Linked DNA regions of Homo sapiens. The protein of the gene in region 1 purifies or fractionates together with the protein of each later gene. This does not show direct contact. Each region holds a gene or a part of one and is shown on either strand. Other genes may lie near its edges.

The links. Proteins that work in one complex are often made in the same cells at the same time.
Region 2: the proteins of TCTN3 (region 1) and SERPINA12 purify together in Homo sapiens (affinity purification with mass spectrometry; 2 studies listed by BioGRID and IntAct, with this or other methods). This does not show direct contact.
Region 3: the proteins of TCTN3 (region 1) and CTSH purify together in Homo sapiens (affinity purification with mass spectrometry; 2 studies listed by BioGRID and IntAct, with this or other methods). This does not show direct contact.

Annotation. Positions count from the first base shown.
Region 1 is NC_000010.11:95,690,891-95,698,794, reverse strand, and holds the start of TCTN3 (tectonic-3 isoform a precursor), read left to right. Parts: upstream 1-4,867; 5' UTR 4,868-4,895; coding exon 4,896-5,151; intron 5,152-5,318; coding exon 5,319-5,442; intron 5,443-5,756; coding exon 5,757-5,875; intron 5,876-7,904.
Region 2 is NC_000014.9:94,492,470-94,499,469, reverse strand, and holds part of SERPINA12 (serpin A12 precursor), read left to right. Parts: intron 1-1,039; 5' UTR 1,040-1,072; coding exon 1,073-1,706; intron 1,707-2,826; coding exon 2,827-3,097; intron 3,098-7,000. UniProt on the Homo sapiens protein: Adipokine that modulates insulin action by specifically inhibiting its target protease KLK7 in white adipose tissues.
Region 3 is NC_000015.10:78,935,047-78,942,046, reverse strand, and holds part of CTSH (pro-cathepsin H isoform a preproprotein), read left to right. Parts: intron 1-2,875; coding exon 2,876-2,907; intron 2,908-4,223; exon of another isoform or gene 4,224-4,292; coding exon of another isoform or gene 4,293-4,361; intron 4,362-4,623; coding exon 4,624-4,729; intron 4,730-6,296; coding exon 6,297-6,367; intron 6,368-6,964; coding exon 6,965-7,000. UniProt on the Homo sapiens protein: Important for the overall degradation of proteins in lysosomes.

The DNA.
Region 1 (7,904 bases):
AGAATACCTAAAAATGGGTAATTTATAAAGAAAAAAATTGATTTCTTACAGTTATGAAGCCTGGGAAGTCCAAAGTCAAAGAGGCATACCTGGTGAGAGCCATCTTGCCGGTGGGACTCCCTTGAGGTGGCCCTGGGCAGTGAGCCTGTGGAGAGTACCCTGACCTGTCCTCTGAAACTATTCTGTCCTCCTATGCCTCTGGGCCTGTGATGGGAGGGGCACCCTCTAAGATCTTTGAAATGCCTTTGGGATCTTTCTTCCCTTGTCTAAAGGAATGGTATCTGTCTCCCTTTTATCCAAACTAATCTCTTTAGCAAACAGTCACTGGGCTGCACCCTTGGTTTCCTCTGCTGAACGTGCTTTTTTACTCTTCATGTGGTCAGGCTGAGAGTTATCCAAATCCTTCCACTCTGCTTCCCTTTTCATGATAAATTCTACCTTTAAATTATTCCTTTGCTCCTGAATATCAGCATAAGTTGTCAAATGTAATCATGTAGCTCCTTCTATATTTGGCTTAGGAATTTCTTTTGCTAGATACCCTAGTTCATTAATCTCAAGTTTGGCCCTCCACAATTCCCTCAGGCATGGACACAGTTCAGCCAAGTTCTTTGCCAATTTATAACAAGGATGGCCTTTACTCCATTTTCCAATACCACCTTCCTCAGTTCCATCTCAAATCTCAGCAGAATGGCCTTTACTGTCCATATTTCTATCCGTATTCTGGTTACAATCATTTAACAAATCTCTAAGAAGTTCCAAATGTTCCCTTGTCTTTTTGTTTTCTGAGTCTCGCCAGAATCACCCTTAATACTCCATTCACTGAAATACAGTCACTTTATAGCCTGCTCCTTCAAACTCTTCCAGCCCCTGCTCATTACCTAGTTCCAAAGCTGCTTCCCCATTTTCAGGTATTTGTCATCAGCAAAATCCCACTTCTTGGTTCCAATTTTCTGTCTTCGTTCATTCTCTGTTGCTTATAACAGAATGCCTGAAACAGGATAAGTTATAAAGAAAAGGAATTCATTTCTTACAGTTGTGGAGGCTGGGAAGCCCAAGGTCAAGGGGGCATCTCTTAAGAACCTTCTTGCTGCTGGCAACTCTCTGCAGCATCCCAAGGCAGCACAGGGCATCACATGGTGAGGAAGCTGAGCGTGTTAACTTGCTAACTCAGGTCTCTGTTCCTCTTCTTGTAAAGCCACCAGTTCCTCTCTCATGACAACACATTAATCCATTAACCCGTGAATGGATTAGTCCATTCATGAAGGCAGAGACCTCATGATCAAATCACCTCTTAAAGGTCCCACCTCTCAATACTGCACATTGGGGATTAAGTTTTGAAATGAATTTTGGAGGAGACACGCAAACCTAGTAGTGGGCTAGGACCAGTCTCAACGTGTGGGGCCTCTCTCTTCCTCCTAAATGTCAGAAGCCATCCAGGGCACTGTCCTGCCTTTTCAGTAAAAGTATACATGGACTGCCTCCCGCCACCCCCACCACCACCTTTAGGGGAAAATTCTTCTGCTATCCACCGCAAGCACAAGTAGGGATAAGCTTGAGAGGCTGACCTGGCTCTTCCTACAGTGGTACTTCAATCAATAACTCATAGAATTGTCTAAGGGCCACTATTGATAACAAATACCTTCTTTCTGTGTGCTTAGAGCACTCCAAGAGTCACTTCCATTTCTGTATAAGGCCTTTATTATGCAACTGTTGTTTGTCCACCTTCAATTCCATCCCATGTGCCTTCTATTTTTCAAGTATTCTTATAATGTCTGGCCCATGAGAGCACACCTTCATGTATTTCAATTCTGGGCATGTTCATGTATGCACAAGTGTGTGTGTATCTAAGTTTTCTGTAATTTTCAGAGATTTTTGGAAAAGGGGGGAGAAGTGGGAAAAGGACAGAACTTGTTGTCTGCCATCTCAGTACAATCTCCTTGCTAAATTTCCAATTACATATTAAACTCTTTTAATCCCAAACACAGACAACTGCTAGTATCATATGATCTAATTTGGAAATCTCTGCTTCTGAGATGATATTATATGATCTCAATTTAAGACTTGGTCCCCATACTAAACCTGACATCTGCATGACACATGTGAATAAATTTCATTCTTCATCCACAAAATTATCTTTCAGATTTTAATACTGGATCTCAAAAGTATTGAGAGTTCTATATTACAGAGATTCTTACAAATACAAAACAGCAATACATGCCAGGCACGGTGGCTCATGCCTGTAATCCCAACACTTCGGGAGGCTGAGGCAGGCAGATCACTTGAGGTCAGGAGTTTGAGACCAGCTTAGCCAACATGGTGAAACTCCGTCTCTACTACAAATGCAAAAATTAGCTGGGTGTGGTGGGTACACCTGTAGTCCCAGCTACTAGGGAGGCTGAGGCAGGAAAGTTGCTTGAACCTGGGAGGTGGAGGTTGCAGTGAGCCAAGATGGCGCCACTGCACTCCAGCCTGGGTGACAGGGCAAGACTCTCTCAAATAAGTTAATTAATTAATTAATTAAATCAATAAATAAAACAAGTTTAAAAAACAGCAATACAAATAATCTTTTTGCTTAACTATAACAAAAGAGAAAAAAATAACTTTTCTAAAAAAAAGTTGTGTTAAAATTCAAAAATAAGAAAAAGCAACTCAAAAAGATCCGGAAACATTACTTCCTTATCACTCATCTCTAAAATTACTTCAACCAACAGTCTTTTGCCAACGCTAATAAATTCAGAAATAATTTAACACTATTTGAGAGTTGCCATTTAAATTCCAAACTTTGAAATCTAAAATAGTCTCTGATCAGATGTACAATGGAAATTTTATAGAAAGATCATTACATGGTAAATTGGTTGCAAAAAGAAGAAATTTTATAGAAAGAAATACAATCCTGAAATAAAATAAACTAAAAATATTCCTAAGGATTAATTCTAAAGAGTTCAACAAAACAATTTTTAATATATTTTTAAAATATTTAATGCACATCTAACATGTCCCAGACACTGTTCTAGGCATGGGGATATTTCAATGAACAAAACAGACAAAACTCACTATTTTTGGAATTTACATTCTAGTATATACATATGATCATATAATCTGAATAATATGAACTTGGCCTTTTCCTATAGAAATTACTAATAAGGTAAATAAATGTTTTAAGACCAAACACATATCTCCCATAGCTGTCTATCACACAACAACATAAAAACATATTTGAAAATATTTATAACACAGAGAGACTTTTAGCTACTGACTTCAAAACATTAGAAAATAAAGATCTTGTAAGAGAATTCAAGTAAAGTCAAATGTCCTAAAACTTACCTGAGTTAAATGATTCACTTGTAAAGGGAGGTGTTGACCAGATTTTAGGTAAGTGTACTAGATTTTAGATAACTCTTAACAGATGTTAATTTATATACTAAAACTAAATATCCAAAATAATCCAGATGTCAGAACCGTGGACATAGGAAAATACTGGGTCTAGGAGGAGCAATATTTTGATCATCTACAGTCCCACTGTACAATATGGTAGCTACTCACGTCTGTGGTTAACTTTGAATTAATTACAATTTAAAAATTAAAAATTCAGGCCAGGCACAGCGACTCACAGCTGTAATCCCAGCACTTTAGGAGGCCAAGGCGGGAGGGTCACTTGAGGTCAGGAATTCGAGACCAGCCTGGACAACATGGTGAAACCCCATCTCTACTAAAAATAAAAATAAAATTAGCCGGGCGTGGTGGCGCGTGCCTGTCATCCCAGCTACTCAGGAGGCTGAAACAGAAGAATCACCTGAATCCTAGAGGCAGAGGTTGCAGTGAGCTGAGATCACACCACTGCACTCCAGCCTGAGCGACAGAGCGAAACACCGTCTCAAAAAAAAAAAAAAAAAAAAAAATCAGCTCCTCAGTCACGCTAGCCACATTTCAAGCGCACAATTGCCACATAAGGCCGGTGACTACCATGCTGGACAGTGCAGCTACGGTACATTTCCAATACCGAAGGAAAGTCCCATGGCCCGCGCTGCTGTGGGGAATCGGAAGAGGCACGCCATTCCCGGGAAGAACAAAAACCTCCTAGAGAGGCTTAAAAAATTTGCCATTAACACGGGGAAAAAAATCTTCTATTTCCATTCCTCCATCTTATTTTCTCACCTCCTAGACAATGTTTCTTTTTTTTATTCTTTCTCTCCCTATTTTCTCACATTTTTCCTGCCCTTTTTTCTTATTTTTCTCTCACTGCTTTTTCTAACAACAAACATGCAGTCCATCTTTAATGATTTGATGCATTTCTTTAGGGTTTTCAAAATTTCTCAATGTTAAAATGTAAGGAGCTGAATGAACATTATTTCTAATGTGTTTTTTTTTTTTTTAAAAAAGCCATATTTAGAGGAGACTGTTTTTTAAGGTATGTGACCTTAGGTGTGTTTCCCCCACCTGAGAACATTATTCTTCCATAGAAAGGGTTTCTCACCGTTGGAATCCGGGGTGAAAAAAAATTTGCAATTCTAGTTCCGGCCTCTGGGGTTTCCTTGCACCGGAGGCCGGGCTCAGTCCTCTGGGCCGCGAAGTGGGCGCGGAACCTCTCGGTCCGCCGAACTCCTACCGCCACCTAGCGGAAGGAAGGCGCAAGGGCTTCTTCGTCACTGACGGTTGCCAGGCAACGGAGGCACGGCCCGGCCCGCGTTAAGGAGGAGGGCGCAGACCGAAGGACACTGAAAGAGCTGTAACAACCCCACTTTCGATTGGTTGAAGAGCTCTCAGCCTTCTCATGAGCCAATGAGAAGAGGCACGCGGATGGCGTCAGACGCTATGCGACTCCTCCCACCCACGCTCTGGCAATGCGATTGGAGACCGCGGAGGCCTACGTCGGACCCGGAGGCCCTGAATGCCCCATGCGCACCCCACAGCTCGCGCTCCTGCAAGTGTTCTTTCTGGTGTTCCCCGATGGCGTCCGGCCTCAGCCCTCTTCCTCCCCATCAGGGGCAGTGCCCACGTCTTTGGAGCTGCAGCGAGGGACGGATGGCGGAACCCTCCAGTCCCCTTCAGAGGCGACTGCAACTCGCCCGGCCGTGCCTGGACTCCCTACAGTGGTCCCTACTCTCGTGACTCCCTCGGCCCCTGGGAATAGGACTGTGGACCTCTTCCCAGGTGAGGGAAAACGTTGTGGGGGTGGAAACTTACTTCTGAGATCTAAAATTCTGTGAGCAAAGTTGAGCTGCCACAAAGCAGGAGTGGGGCTGTCGGAAGAAGGAGGGTGAGCACCTGGGAGAGTTTGGGGATCTTCATCCCACTCACTCTGTGTCGTACTTTCATAGTCTTACCGATCTGTGTCTGTGACTTGACTCCTGGAGCCTGCGATATAAATTGCTGCTGCGACAGGGACTGCTATCTTCTCCATCCGAGGACAGTTTTCTCCTTCTGCCTTCCAGGCAGCGTAAGGTGAGCTTCGTTGCTCAGACTGAATCCTAAAGGGGTTTGGGGCCTACAACGGGTAACATTTGGATGTAAGAAGAGTTAGTCTTTGTGCCTCCCACCCGTACTTCCACTCCTAGGACATTCCCTTGGTTTTTCCTAGGAATTGCCTTTTCTGATTCTCTAGAGCAGGGCTGGCCAGTAGAATAAGACCTTCGTGTCGTCCTATAGGTGCCCAAGGAGTCCTCTTTGGCATCATCTGGCCGATATTGCTGGGACACTCTTTTTTGGACCTGCCCCGCCCCTTCTAAATATATCTTCTCCCTCCTCTTTCCTCACAGGTCTTCAAGCTGGGTTTGTGTAGACAACTCTGTTATCTTCAGGAGTAATTCCCCGTTTCCTTCAAGAGTTTTCATGGATTCTAATGGAATCAGGCAGTTTTGTGTCCATGTGAACAACTGTGAGTAGAAACATGTTGGTTGTTCTCATTTTCTAACACAGGAGTGTTATATTTTGTCTTCCCTGGCCCACATTGGAAGAAGAATTGTCTTGGGCCACACGTAAAATACACTAACGATAGCTGATGAGTTAAAAACAACAACAAAAAAAAAGCAAAAAAAATGTCAAATGTTTTAAGAAAGTTTACAAATTTGTGTTGTTGGGCTGCATTCATAAGCCGTCCTGGGCTGCATGCGGCCGGTGGGTTGCAGGTTGGACAAGCTTGGTCTAACATTTATTGAGAATTGGCTTTTATTCTGGCCTTTTTTCCATTTCTTTTTTTTAAACTTTTTTTTTTTTTGTCCTTTGAATCTCTACGCCTCTTTCTGCCTCTTCTCTCTTATTACGGAATACATTTGCATTTTTGTTTTTTTTTGAGACGGAGCCTCCACCTATCGCCAGGAGTGCAGTGCAGTGGCACGATCTCAGCTCACTGCAACCTCCACCTCCCGGATTAAAGTGATTCTCCTGCCTTAGCTTCCCGAGTAGCTGGGACTATGGGTGTGTGCCACCATGACCAGCTAATTTTTGTATTTTTAGTAGAGACGGGGTTTTGCAATGTTGGCCAGGATGGTCTTGATCTCTTGACCTCATGGGCCACCCACCTCGACCCCCAAAGTGCTGGGATTACAGGTGTGAGCCACCGCGCCTGGCCACATTTGCAACTTTTTATGTTCTGTTGGCTATGGATCAGAAAACTCATAAAGAACTTTAATTTCAATCATTTTAATCATTCCTCTTAACTCAGATAATCACAGATAGACTATATTCCCCACTTACTACAATCTCCATGAGGGTACTAACTGAATCCCCAGTGCCTAACACATAGTAAGCACCAAATAATGTTTGAATGAACATCTTTGACAAATGAGTCTATGCCAACCTTATTTTCATTTCATGAGGCAACAGTGTAGGAGGAGCATTAGATTAGGATCTCAGTCCTGCCATTTCCTTACCAGCTATACAGACTTGGGCAAATCCCTTAGCATTTCCAGGCTCGTTTCTTCAACTGTAAAGTGAGAAATAATATCATTGGCTTTGTATATGAAAGCGCTCTACAACTGTAGAGTACAATAAAGATTAGAGGTTATTATTATTGGGGATGGTTAGTGGACTTAGAAATTTGCTGGTGATGGCTATAACATTTCTAAAGATATGAAGCTAATCTATCTTTTTAAAATGTCTATGAAGCAAAATAATGTTCCTGCACAAAATGGATTTAAATGTCTCTTGCATCCTGGAAGTCACCTCATCCTGATTTCATCTGACTGTTAATAAGAATTGCAAAACTATATTTGTCTCAGAAAACAACCAGTTTTTGGTTTTGGGGGACTTGAATTTCAAAGCAGTTATCAGAAGCCTTGTGGTTATTTAGATGGTAATAGGGTAAAGGGAACAAGATGAATACTTCATTTTCAGATAAGGTTGTGGCCTGACGCGGTGGCTCACTCCTGTAATCTTAGCACTTGGGAGGCTGAGGTGGGCAGATCACTTGAGGTCAGGAGTTTGAGACCAGCCTAACCAACATGGTGAAACCCTGTCTCTACTAAAAAAACAAAAAATTATCCAGGCATGGTAGTGGGCACCTGTAATCTCAGCTAGTTGGGAGGCTGAGGCAGGAGAATCATGTGAGCCTGGGAGGCTGAGATTGCACCACTGCACTCCAACCTGGGTAACAGAACGAGAGTCTGTCTCAAAAAAAGAAAGTTGTCTCTTCTTTTCCAAACATTTTACTGCCTTTTAAATCCAGCCTTATGATCATGCTCCAGGGTTATTGCAATGGCACCTACCTGGTGCTCCCTGCTTTTGATCCCCACTCCTGCCCCCGACACCATCCTGCACACTCCTTCGGGATCAGTGGATCTGAACTTTCTTTAAACACCTGAGGGAGGAATATGGCCACTTCCAATAGTAGTTATGGTTCATTACATCAATGAACTTTTTCCTGAACGAGGGTGGGGTGTACATTCATGTTTAGTATGAAAAAGGCA
Region 2 (7,000 bases), on another chromosome or scaffold:
AAATCAATAAGCTTTTTAGGCCAACATGCTTTTAGCATCTCTCTGCAGAATTAGGGCTGGAGATTAAGGGAAAACGTAGCTAAAAGTCTTGTCTCCCAGAAGCTCACAGTGGCCGTTGGAAGATGTCAAAGCTGAGAGGTGGATGAAAGGAGCAGCAGTCCAGAGCCAGGCAGACCTGGCTGTTCCTCTCCCATGGTGCCATCCTCTTCCCTCCCTGGGAAGGGTGTAGGGAAGAAGGTTTCCTGGAGATCTAAGTCCTCCTGGAATGAGTATCCACCACCTAGAGAACATATGAGCTTAAACAAAGAGCTTGATCTCTGTAAATTAGTCATAATTCTTTTGGCTGAAGGGGAAAAATTTACCTCAAACCAGCCAACTCTAAAAGGGAAATTTATTGGCTTTCATAACTTGGAAACATGGAAGTGGGTAGCAAACTGAGTTAAAGGTTAGTCCAGGGTCTCCAAAGATGTCATCAGATGTGTCAGTCCATTTCTGTCTTTCCACCTCCCTCTATCACTCTCCTCTCCTTCTACATGTGGAAACCATGGCCACATTCAGCTCCAGGGCTACTTCACAAAGCTAGCTGCCCCAAAGCTTAGGGGGTTTTGCATTCCCTTAGAAAGACACTGAGAGGTCTGATTTTGGTCCACACTCTCATCTTTAACCAGCCAGTGTGGCAAAGGAATGAAGTATTATGATGGTAGGTCTGGGCCATATGCCTACACTACGGGGTATCCTCACTGTGGTCCAATGGAGGGAAGGAGAGCTGTTCCTCAAAGGAATTGAGACACTGTTTCCATAAAGAGGGTACAAAAACAAGAGTTGTCTTCTACATTCAGTCCTCCTATTTACAAAGTGTAGAAGTCATTTCTAGTCCCCAGGGTGATTATAAAGTTTAAATGCTATAAAGGGGTCAAAGCACTCATAAACTGCTATGTACAACACATAATAGTCACTGTATTTCTTCTTTCATCTGGTCTTCCTCTGGGTAACATGTAGGCAATGGGGTTATCATGTTCTTTTTTTCTGCTGACCTCAGGTCTACTACTCAACAGGATATTCTTCAAGGAAAATGAACCCCACACTAGGCCTGGCCATTTTTCTGGCTGTTCTCCTCACGGTGAAAGGTCTTCTAAAGCCGAGCTTCTCACCAAGGAATTATAAAGCTTTGAGCGAGGTCCAAGGATGGAAGCAAAGGATGGCAGCCAAGGAGCTTGCAAGGCAGAACATGGACTTAGGCTTTAAGCTGCTCAAGAAGCTGGCCTTTTACAACCCTGGCAGGAACATCTTCCTATCCCCCTTGAGCATCTCTACAGCTTTCTCCATGCTGTGCCTGGGTGCCCAGGACAGCACCCTGGACGAGATCAAGCAGGGGTTCAACTTCAGAAAGATGCCAGAAAAAGATCTTCATGAGGGCTTCCATTACATCATCCACGAGCTGACCCAGAAGACCCAGGACCTCAAACTGAGCATTGGGAACACGCTGTTCATTGACCAGAGGCTGCAGCCACAGCGTAAGTTTTTGGAAGATGCCAAGAACTTTTACAGTGCCGAAACCATCCTTACCAACTTTCAGAATTTGGAAATGGCTCAGAAGCAGATCAATGACTTTATCAGTCAAAAAACCCATGGGAAAATTAACAACCTGATCGAGAATATAGACCCCGGCACTGTGATGCTTCTTGCAAATTATATTTTCTTTCGAGGTAAGGCTTTTGGCATGTTGGTGTGGAAAGAATAGGATGACCACTAGACTTGGGTTAAAAACCTGGGTTGGCCACTTGTTTACTCTGTGACCTTGAATTCATATGTGATTTATCTCTCAAAACCTCACTTTTCCTATCTGTAAAATGGTTACCATGATACATAACTCATACAGTTATTGAGATTTAAAGTGAAAATGTATGTGAAATGAGCTTTATGAAGTCTATCATTTTCATTATTGGTGATTATCCTAACACAACATTGGTTATAGAGGTTGGAATGACATTTTGTTCCCATCACTTAGATGAGAAAAAAAAATCAGAGTGAGATTAACTGACTTACTCCAAGTTACAAAGCCCATCATTGACAGTCAGGACTGGAACACATTTCTCCTGGCCCTAGCACTGTGTGCTTTCCAGCACTTTAAGCAGACACCTGAGATGGTGATTGTGTTGATTATGGTGATGGTGATCACTTGGTGGGTCTCCTTATGTATGTATTATATAAATTCTCCTTATCAGACTTTATATATTTCCCAGATCTGATGGAGAGAGACAGAAAAAAAAGATGGAAGAATGTTTCCAATTTCAACTTTATCCCCCAACACCACACAGAACACATGTACACAAACAGGTTGGCCAAAATAGGTGAGAATCAGAGGCCAACACCCATCAGTCCAGACAAAATCACTGCTGGAGTGTCAGGAACATGGTACTAAATATAAAAAATTGAGGGTTCTCAAAATCCACAGGCAGATTGATGGCTAAAGAAGAGTCTACTCACATCAGACTCAATTAGCCCTCATTAATTGTAATGCAGTCCCCTCTGTTAGGACATAATCAGTGGGCTTTCTCAGGCTTAGGGGAACCTGAGCTTATGGTAGTCTTCTTTTCCCCTCTTAATTTGGCAGTCTAGTCCTGGCTTCTTTGGGAACTAATAATTGCACCTGAGCCCATATCATCAGAAATCTCCAGGACATGGCATGAGGGCAAGGACTTCCCTGATATCCCGGAATATCCCCTTTCACCCTGAATCTGTGTGGAGAGAGACTACTGGTTAGTTGGATTTAGTCACCTTTTTTCCCTTGGGATAACATGTCTGTTTGTCTTTCTTCAATCTAAGCCAGGTGGAAACATGAGTTTGATCCAAATGTAACTAAAGAGGAAGATTTCTTTCTGGAGAAAAACAGTTCAGTCAAGGTGCCCATGATGTTCCGTAGTGGCATATACCAAGTTGGCTATGACGATAAGCTCTCTTGCACCATCCTGGAAATACCCTACCAGAAAAATATCACAGCCATCTTCATCCTTCCTGATGAGGGCAAGCTGAAGCACTTGGAGAAGGGATTGCAGGTGGACACTTTCTCCAGATGGAAAACATTACTGTCACGCAGGTAAAGTGGGTGCCTAGCCCTCGCAGCTTTTTCCTTCTCTTGTCTTCCCTCTTATTTCTGCTGTCTGAGCTCTTACCTCATGGCCAAGTCCTCTTCTGGGCTCTATAATAAACTTATATCATGGTGAGAATTAGACTGGGGAACAAATCATAGGAATAGAGTGAAGTGCCTGGCTCTTTGAGGGAGATTCATCAAGACTGTGAGGGCGCAGTAGATGGAGTCTTACTGGAGGGCGGTGGTCAGGGAGGACTTCATAGAGGAGATAGCATTTGAGCCAAGTCTTCAAGGGTGAGTGGCAGTCTGTATGAAAGGGTGAGGAGCAAAGGAAACTGCAAGGACAAACACGGGCTGTAAAAGAGAGCTGTGAGTTGTGAGTAGAATGATGTTGTCAACTGTGGTGTCACAACAAAACCCATGAAGTATCCAAAGTAAGTTATACAAATAATAGTTGAAGAATAAAAGAGAGTAAATATTTTTCTTTTTAAAACATAAACTGATATTAGATTAATGCTAAGCCTACAGAATTCCTCCCAGGCACTTGCTTACTGATAGATTTTGGGGGAAAAGGTAAGAGTTGGTGTTGGGTTTAAGTCTTGGGGACTTAGTGTCAGCGTGGACATACATAGTGCCTTGAAAGTGGCTGGGCTAGTGGCCTCTAGTAGCCAGAGCAGTGAAGGGGATGTAGCAGAGTGGGCAGTTTCCACTTGGACAGGTGTCAGATGTCCTCTTCTCTGTTCTCTTTCCCTCTTCCACCTTGTCCCTGTCATCATTCCCCATGCATCTCCATAAAGGTATTTACTAAGAACCTCTGCCACACCTAACGTCCTGTCAGGCACCAAGGACGGTACCAAGAGAGGTACAGATGATGCTAGGACTGAGCTTAGTAACCCATGGGTGGTAACTGAACTGATGCAACTCTTTTCATGCAGAACACTGTCTTGGAGGCATTCCAGAATGCATCTCTTATATCTAGAGTGAGCTGCAGACTTAAGAAAGGGAAATTCTGGCCGGGCGCGGTGGCTCACGCCTGTAATCCCAGCACTTTGGGAGGCCGAGGCGGGCGGATCACGAGGTCAGGAGATCGAGACCATCCCGGCTAAAACGGTGAAACCCTGTCTCTACTAAAAATACAAAAAATTAGCCGGGCGTAGTGGCGGGCGCCTGTAGTCCCAGCTACTTGGGAGGCTGAGGCAGGAGAATGGCATGAACCCGGGAGGCGGAGCTTGCAGTGAGCCGAGATCCCGCCACTGCACTCCAGCCTGGGCGACAGAGCGAGACTCCATCTCAAAAAAAAAAAAAAAAAAAAAAGAAAGGGAAATTCTGATTCCGAATGCTTCCAATTAAGTCATGGTACTGGGATGGAGGAGCCAAGTAGCAGAGCATCCCAAGAGCGTTGCCATCCCTTGAGATCTGCATAGTCTCACCTGCCCTTCCCACTGGGAACCAGGGAGGTGGAAGGGTTGGCAGAGTCTGGCCACTGAAACAAAAGGAGGGGTCCAGGTTACAACCTTTAGCTGAGACCTGGTCTTCTCATCTATGGTGTGTGGCCATAATATCGCCAACACCACAGTACTCTTGAGAGAATTAAATGTGCCTTAGCACAGCATTGCCCCACAGAAAACATATCCAAATGCAAATTCCTCTTTCCTTCCCATTGTCTAAAGAGGCAGAGCTCCAAGGTTCTCAGCAGAACTTTTGAACTTCTGGTTTATTGAATGACAGGTGTCCTGCAAATCTGACCCTCTTACCCTCAGGTTGAAGCCCTAGGGTGGCTGCTCTTCCACTGCAGAAGATGTTCCCAGTGGGAGGGGCGGGTGAGGCTGTGCAGATCTCGAGGGATGGCAGCGCTCTTGGAATGCCCTGTCACTTAGCTCCCCCCTTCCATAAATGTGACTTTATTGAAAGCATTCAGAACCAGAATTTTCCTTTCTCAAGCCTGCAGCTCACTCTAGATATCAGAGATGCATTCTGCAATGCCTCCAAGCCATGTTCCGTGTGAAAGGAGTCACATCAGTTCAGTTCAGTTACCACCCACGGGTTCCCCCATGTTGTCTCAACATGGGGACATCCCCAAAGGGACTGACGTGTTTCAGCCTGCACTCTACAGATTTTTAGAGTTCACAGAGATGTCTTGAGAGATCTCCCTAGGGAACTGGGGGGTGTAGAACATGAAGAGAAGGTAAGAAATGGGAGGGATGCCAGGTCTTCCACCCCACTTCATCCAGAAGTCTGGCTTTGTGAGACATGGACTCCAGAATATGACATTTCCCGTAGGACTCAAATTACAGTGGCTTGAGACTCTGCAGTTGATTTGCTGGAACTCACTGTCCTGAGTGCACTCCACCCCTATCTCCAAGCCATGTCTGACAATTTCTCCATGGGGCTACAGCTCAGGTGCTACACTGGGGGCTTCACATTCCCCTCACTGAGGCCCTCTGCAGCCCCTGGTGCTGTGACCACCATCAGGCCACCACCAACCACACAGATGTTCCCTGGGCACTGCCACCATCTCTCTGGCTTCAGGCTTCATCTCCTTTTGCACCTTTACACAAGAGTGAAATAGAACCTTTGAGATTTTCTGTAGGCTAGTGCCAGACTTCCTGGAGGTTTGGGAATAACAGAACCAAAGCTCCTCACAGGGACCCAGGATAACTTACAGCGCACAGAAGCGGCGTCTTGTGAAGTCCAAGTGTAAGCTGCTCTCAGTGGCGTCTCGTGAAGTCCAAGTGTAGAGTGTAGGCTGCTCTCAGTGGTGTCTTGTGGAGTCCAGGTGTAAAGTGCAGGCTGCTCTCAGTGGCGTCTTGTGAAGTCCAAGTGTAGGCTGCTCTCAGCATCTCTTCCAGGGCACCTCCTTCCATTTTTCTAGTGCCTGGTCTGCCTCCCCCATCCCTCTGGGACTGCTTTCCGCATCTCCTTGACTTGAGGCCAGGCCTCCCCACCAGGAGGGCCATAGAAAGGAAGGTTCCTCTCACCCCAGGGATGTCTTGCCTACCCAGTCACTTCTGGCCTTGGAATGACAGACAGGGTATTGTCCACCTTCCCGAGAAGAAACTCCAAATCCTCTTGCAGGACAGGGGGCTTGCTCACCGTCCCCAGGGAATTACATTTCATTAGAACATGATAGGAACAAACATTCCTACCTTCTGAGCTCATTATTTCTGGGAGATAAGTGGTCAAGTTGCTTTGATCTACAGGTGGGAAGCCTAGTCCAGAGAGCTCAGTGGCCCGCTATGGGAGAGCAGAGGTGGACGGGCTATCCCTATGCATTCTTTCTGCAGTCCTCTCCAGACTGGAGGGCCTAGAAGACACTGAGCAGAAAAATCACCTTTTCCCTAAAAGAAGTAACCAAGTCAACAGACACACACCAACTTACATGTGTGTAGAACATGTCAGAATTTAGGCTTCGGATGACTTCCACCTGGCCTCTGTGCAGGAGGCAGACACCTGCTTTGGATTTGCATAATTTGAGGCCAGGTGCTGCTCTGATTTCCCCAGAGGAAAAGCTCTGTTTCCCAGGGTCCACCTTTAGGAGCAGAAAACTGCTGGTGGCTTTGAAATAGCCATTGTCCTGTTCAGAAGTGTCGAGGGTCCACTCCCAGCCTGGGTGCCCCCCACACATTTCCGTACATATTGGTATATGCACTCACCTGTCAGCACAGCTGCACTTAGTGCCTTCCCACGTTGGCACAAACTAAAGCCGATCTCCTCATTTACGCACTGGACCTACGGCCCCCTGCTACTCAGGAACATCACCCTAGAAATCCTCTCCTCACTTTCCTACATCAGCATATGTTTTTCTCTCTTCTGAATCATTTCCATCAGATACAAAGATGCCCTTATCTTTCCTATCATGAAACCTCGCAGGGGGCCAGGGAAAACTTACAGCTCATAGAAGTGGCTTCT
Region 3 (7,000 bases), on another chromosome or scaffold:
AAGACCAGAATTAATGCTGAACCTTTTCTCAACCAAACAATATTCACTCATGAAAATATAAATCCATTGCGGGGGATGGGCAGTAGAGTACTGTTTATCACATTAAGAGATGCATTTCTGATACAATTTTACTTTTGATGTTTAACAATTACTTTTCATAATGTATAATACATTTGAAATGTTTTAATCAGTTGGGACACTAATAATAATTATGATTACTCAATCCAGAATAAATTTTTTTTTTTTTTTTTGAGACGGAGTCTCATTCTGTCGCCCAGGCTGGAGTGCAGTGGCGTGATCTCGGCTCACTGCAAGCCCCGCCTCCCGGGTTCACGCCATTCTCCTGCCTCAGCCTCCTGAGTAGCTGGGACTGCAGGCGCCCGCCACCACGCCCGGCTAATTTGTTTTTTGTATTTTTAGTAGAGTTGGGGTTTCACCGTGTTAGCCAGGATGGTCTCGATCTTCTGAACTCGTGATCCGCCCGTCTCAGCCTCTCAAAGTGCTGGGATTACAGGCATGAGCCACCGCGCCCAGCTCCAGAATAAATTTTTATAATATTCACAGATGTATGGGTCACAGGTAGTAAAAACATTTAATTTTTTTTTTTTTTTTTTTTTTTTTTTTAGACAGAGTCTCGCTTTGTCGCCCAGGCTGGAGTGCAGTGGCACGATCTTGGCTACTGCAACCTCTGCCTCCCAGGTTCAAGCAATTCTTCTGCCTCAGCCTCCCAAGTAGCTGGGACTACAGGTGCATGCCACCACGTCTGGCTTATTTTTGTATTTTTAGTAGAGATGAGGTTTCACCATGTTGGCCAGGCTGGTCTCAAACTCCTGACCTCATGATCCACCTGCCTCAGCCTCCCAAAGTGCTGGGATTACAGGCATGAGCCACGGCGCCCAGCCAAAATAAATAATTTAAATTTAAACTTTTTGTTGTTGTTGCAGAAAAGAATGTGAAGGTGATCAAGCATAAAAATGTATGTTCCCTTAGGATAAAATTCTGCCAGGTGGGGATGGAGATAGGTGTTCAACAAGAAAAAGAAACTCTGTATAATATCTGACTCTTTTTTGTTTTGTTTTCTTTATTTGAGATGGAGTTTCGCTCTTGTCACCCAGGCTGGGGTGCAGTGGCACAATCTCGGCTCACAGCAGCCTCCGCCTCTCAGGTTCAAGCGATCCTCCTGCCTCAGCCTCCTGAGTAGCTGGGATTACAGGCGCCTGCCACCATGCCCAGCTAATTTTTGTATTTTTAGTGGAGCTGGGGTTTTGCCATGTTGGCCAAGTTGGTCATGAGCTCCTGACCTCAGGTGATCTGCCCACCTTGGCCTCCCAAAGTGCTGGGATTACAGGCGTGAGCCACCACACCCCGCCTAAATACCTGACTCTTATAGAAAAGTTTGTTCATGTTACTGATGGTGGATATCAAATCATCATGGTATTTAGATTCCACTGGCTAGCTTTAAAAGAATGATATAACAATCTTATTTTTAGAGATTTTTTTTTTTTTTTTGAGACAAGGTCTCACTCCTGTCACCCAGGCAGGAATGCAGTGGCGCTATCATAGCTCATTGCAGCCTCAACCTCCCAGGCTCAAGTGATTCTCCCGTCTAATTTTTTTTATTTTTTTGTAGAGACGAGGTCTCACTTTGTTGCCCAGACTGGTCCCAAACTCCTAGGCTCAAGGGATTCGCCTGTGTCAGCCTCCCAAAGTACTGAGATTATAGGCTTGGGCCACACTGCCAGGTGTTATTTTTAAATCTCAATATTTATAAGTTGGAATATGTCTTTGGAGGTATTCAAATTTAAAATGAAATGTTTAGATAAGAACATACATGGGGAAATACGGCAGGAATCCAAAAACAAATGGCTGGCCTGCTTTTGTAAAATATTTTGTCTTGTTTGTTTTATTATGTTTTTGATAATATCTGTACATATTTGGGGGTACATGTGAGGTTTCGTTTTTGTGAAGTCTTGCGGGAACGCAGTCCTACCCATTAATGTTCACAGTCTCTGTGGCTGTCTCTGAGCCGCAGGGGCAGAGTTGAGTAGTTGTGGCAGAAACCATATAGATGGCAAAGCCTGAAATATTTACTACCTGTCCCCATAAGGAAAAACAGTGCTTGCCCTTGGAATAGATAGGTTTGTTTTTTGTTGTTGTTGTTTTTGAGACGGAGTCTCTCTCTGTCGCCCAGGCTGGAGTGCAGTGGCACGATCTCGGCTCACTGCAACCTCCGCCTCCCGGGTTCAAGCGATTCTCCTCAGCCTCCCGAGTAGCTGGGATTACAGGCACACACCACCATACCCAGCTGATTTTTATATTTTTGTGGAGACAGGGTTTCGCCATGTTGGCCAAGCTGGTCTTGAACCCCTGACCTCAGGCAATCGGCCCACCTCGGCCTCCCAAAGTGCTGGGATTACAGGCATGAGCCACCGCGCCCAGCTGGAGTAGATAGCTTTTTAAATTAACTTCTTACCGAAATATAACTTCATACAGAAAGGGGCACAAATCATTGAGTATGCATTTCCACGAATTTTCTCAATCTAAACACACTCAGTTAACCAGCGCCCAGTTGAAGAAACAGGATATGAGCAGCATCCCGGAAGTGCTTTCTGCACCCCGACCCAGTAGGCATAACCACCATCCTGACTTTCAACACCATTGACTAATAGTATATACTTTTTCACATTAATTTGGGGTACAAAACCAGGAAGAGTCGGAGTTTCTTTTTGCATTCTGCATTATATAACACCATTTTTGGTGTTTTAAATTTAGTCCAGTTTTCGAAAATGCAAATCAGTTCTAAAGTGCCCTACTTTGCTATAGACTCAACATTACTGTGATGCGCCCAGACCTAATTTTTTTTTTCTTTTTACAGAGAAGTTTCACTTCAAGTCATGGATGTCTAAGGTCAGTGCCCAACTTCTTCTTTTTGAAGTTTTTCATTTCACAAAGTTTCCTGTTATCAAACCAAACTGTCCCAGATTTGAGACAATGAAAAAGGGAATTTCCAACTTTGCCTAGTGGGGTCTTTCCAGAAGTTGAACTGGCCAAACACTGGGAAAGATGCAGTTAAGTAAATTCCTTCCAAATAGTGGTCCCAAGTGATTAACTTGGCTGACAGCCTTCCAAGCCCTGGGATTCATTTCTGTATTTTGTTTTCAAAGCACATTGTGGAGAATGTAAATTAGTACAACCATTGTAAAAAAAACAGTATGGAGGTTCCATCAAAAACTCAAAACAAAACTACCATATGACCCAGCAAGCCTACTACTGAGTATATATCCAAAAGAAAGGAAATTAGTATATTGGAGGGATATCTGCACCCTCATGTTTATTGCAGAACTAGTCACAATAGCCAAGATATGGAATCAACCTAAGTGCCTATCAATGGGTAAAGCAAATGTGGTGTATGTACACAATGGAATATTATTCAGCCATAACAAAGAATGAAATTCTGTCATTTGCAGCAACATGGATGGAACTGGAGGTCATTATGTTTAGTGAAATAAGCCAAGCATAGAAAGGCAAATATTACATGTTCTCACTCGTATGTGGGAGATAAAAAAGTGGATCTGATGAAGAAAGACAGTAGAATGGTGACTAGCAGAAGCTAGGAAGGGCAGGGAAGCAGGGATGAAGATAAACTGATTCCTGAGTACAAAATATTTTTTTTTTTTTGAGACAGAGTCTCACTTTGTCACCCAGGCTGAAGTGCAGTGGCACACTCTCGGCTCACTGCAACCTCCACCTTCTGGGTTCAAGCGATTCTCATGCCTCAGCCTCCTGAGTAGCTGGGATTACAAGTGTCTGCCACCATGCCCGGCTAATTTTTGTATTTTTAGTAGAGATGGGGGTTCGCCATGTTGGCCAGGTGGGTCTTGAACTCCTGACCTCAGGTGATCCACCCGCCTCAGCCTCCCAAAGTGCTGGGATTACAGGCGTGAGCCACTGCACCTGGCCCAAAAATAATTAGAAGAAATGAGACCAAGTGTTCAAAAAACAAGTAGATTCAACTGTAGTAAGCAATCATTATTTTGTATTTCCAAATAGCTAGTAGAGAATAATTTGAATGTTCCCAGCATAAAGAAATTTTTAAAGTAATGGATCTCCCAATGACCTTGATTTGATTATTACACATTATATGAATGTATCGAAATATTACATTTACCAAAAAAAGTACATCAGTTATATATCAATAAAAAATTATACACATTTGTTTTTAGAAAACCAAAGCACACTGTGTACTGGTTGCAGAATCAGTTGGGGAACACCAGTGCATGTGCTTTTGAAAAATGGTGATCTTTGCTGTAAACTTGACCCAGCACCAGCAGTGGCGTCCAGGAGTGCCCCACATGTGGCAGGTTTGTTCACCAGTGCCTCTTGGACCACATTCTGACTTTCACGCAGCTGCATGGTCTTCATTCTGGCCACAGGTCCCTGAAAACGGGGTTGTTTTGTAACTTCCCAAATTTCTCAGCAGTACCCCGCCCATTAACACAGATTTGGCCTGAGAATCATAGCAGAAAGAAAACCTTCATCTTTCCTCTTAGGAAAACAAAAAGGTCTCCCTCTAGGGAGCTGCAGCCTGTTTCCATGACTTGCTACTGGCGTGTTTTGTTTTAGCACCGTAAGACCTACAGTACGGAGGAGTACCACCACAGGCTGCAGACGTTTGCCAGCAACTGGAGGAAGATAAACGCCCACAACAATGGGAACCACACATTTAAAAGTACGTGGAACGCCTTCCTTCCTTCCTGGAAGGATGTCAGTTAGTGACCCAGCCCATGAAAGGGCCCGCTGGGGGCTGGTGGGTGGAGGGAGCAGAAGCCCAGGCTCTGAAGCTGTGTTTGGCTGACCTCAGATTGTGGCTCCGCTGTTACTCTCTGTGTAATGTGGGATCGTAAATTTGGGACAAAGCCGGTACCCCTCTGGGTGGTTGTGAAGTTTACAAGAGACTCTGTAGAAGCCCCTGCCCCATTCCTGCCATCTGAGGGTCCAGCCTGGAAGCCAAGGTCTGTCTTTGGATTGTTGCGGGGGGTAGGGGTTGCTCATGGGCTCAGAGCAGCCCCTGGGAGCATCTGCCTTCACTCCGGATTAATTTCACTAGAAACTCACATAGGCCGGGCGCGGTGGCTCACGCCTGTAATTCCAGCACTTTGGGAGGCCGAGATGGGTGGATCACCTGAGGTTGGGAGTTCAAGACCAGCCTAACCAACATGGAGAAACCCCATCTCTACTAAAAATACAAAATTAGCCGGGCTTGGTGGCGCATGTCTGTAATCCCAGCTATTTGGGAGGCTGAGGCAGGAGAATCACTTGATCCCGGGAGGTGGAGGTTGCGGTGAGCCGAGATAGTGCCATTGCACTCCAGCCTGGGCAACAAGAGTGAAACTCCATCTCAAAAAAAAAAAGAAACTCACACGCACGTCCAGCGTATTTTCTGAGGACTCTGAGAAATATTGGTAGTTGACTAAATTGGTAATAAAGGCATCAAGCATGAGCTGGAAAGAAACTTGGGCTTGAACCTCATTTCTGCCCAGTCCTAGCCTGTGACCTCCAGGGATGCTAACATGGGCAGTAAAGAGGAAATGAGCCCAGGTGTGGTGGCCCACACCTATAATCCCTAAAGACAGGGTCAGGAGTTCGAGACCAGCCTGGCCAACATGGCAAAACCCCATCTCTACTAAAAATACAAAACTTAGCCGGGCATGGTGGCAGGTGCCTGTAGTCTCAGCTACTAGGGAAGCTGAGGCAGGAGAATCGCTTGAATCCGGGAGGCAGAGGTTGCAGTGAGCCAAGATCGCGTCCCTGCCTCCAGCCTGGGTGACAGAGCGAGACTCTGTCTCAAAAAAAAAAAAAAAAAAAAGAAAAGAAAAGAAAAAGCAGAAATGATCACGCATCCCTGCTGGGGCTGTGTAGAGACCAAATTAGGCAGCAGGTGGGAAGGCCCCTGGCACCAGTGGAGTGGTTCTTTACCTAGCTATCCATCAGACTCACGAGGGGAGTATCTAAAAAAGTAAGTGCCCAGGCCCCACCCCAGACCAACTGCATTAGCATCTCTGGAGTACGGCCCGGACATCTATACCATTGAAAAAGCTCCCCAGGTATTTTGGCAGCACTGTAAGGGCTGATTGAATTATCTACTGAATTATATTAAATACAAAAACTTAAAGGAGATGGGTTGCAGTGGTTCTAAATACGACACAGGTAAACAGGAGGTTTCATCACTTTTTCTTGTTTCTTCATTAGTGATTCACTAACCATTTCTGTTTTGGTTTTTTCCTTCTCTTTTGTAGTGGCACTGAACCAATTTTCAGACATGAGCTTTGCTGAAATAAAACACAAGTATCTCTGGTCAGAGCCTCAGGTAGGTATAATTCATTGCAACCAAATCTGAATCCTTTTACTGAAACCTTTGGAATAAATTTGGAGCCTGCTCTGCTTCTAGGCAGATTCAGTCCCATCCCCAGATGCAGCTGAGGGTATCCCCAGATTCTTTGGGGGAACCAGAAGAGTCAGCTCTCAGCAGTTCCTCAGTCCAGGCCCATGGCCTTAGCATTGTGGACCCTTAACTTAGGGCTACCAGATTAAAATATAGATACTCAGTTAAAAATGAATTTCAGATACACAACAAGTAATTCTTTAGCATAAGTATATTCTAAATATTGCACAGGATATACTTACACTACAAAGTTATTTGTTGTTTACCTGAAATTCAAATTTAACTAGGTGAGCTGTATTTTTATTTGCTACATCTGTCTACCCTATCCTAATGCTCTGGACTCTCAAGGGGACATGTCATTTAGCACTTGGGACCAGTAGACAGGAGAGGGAAGGTTCTGAGAGCTGCAGCCTTTCTTATTCTCTCTTGGTGATTCCATGTTTATACATTTCTTCTTCTTGTTGTCAGAAAGGTTTTTGGTTTTGTTTATTTTCCTGAAAATAATGTGTTTGGTTGTTCCAGAATTGCTCAGCCACCAAAAGTAACTACCTTCGAGGT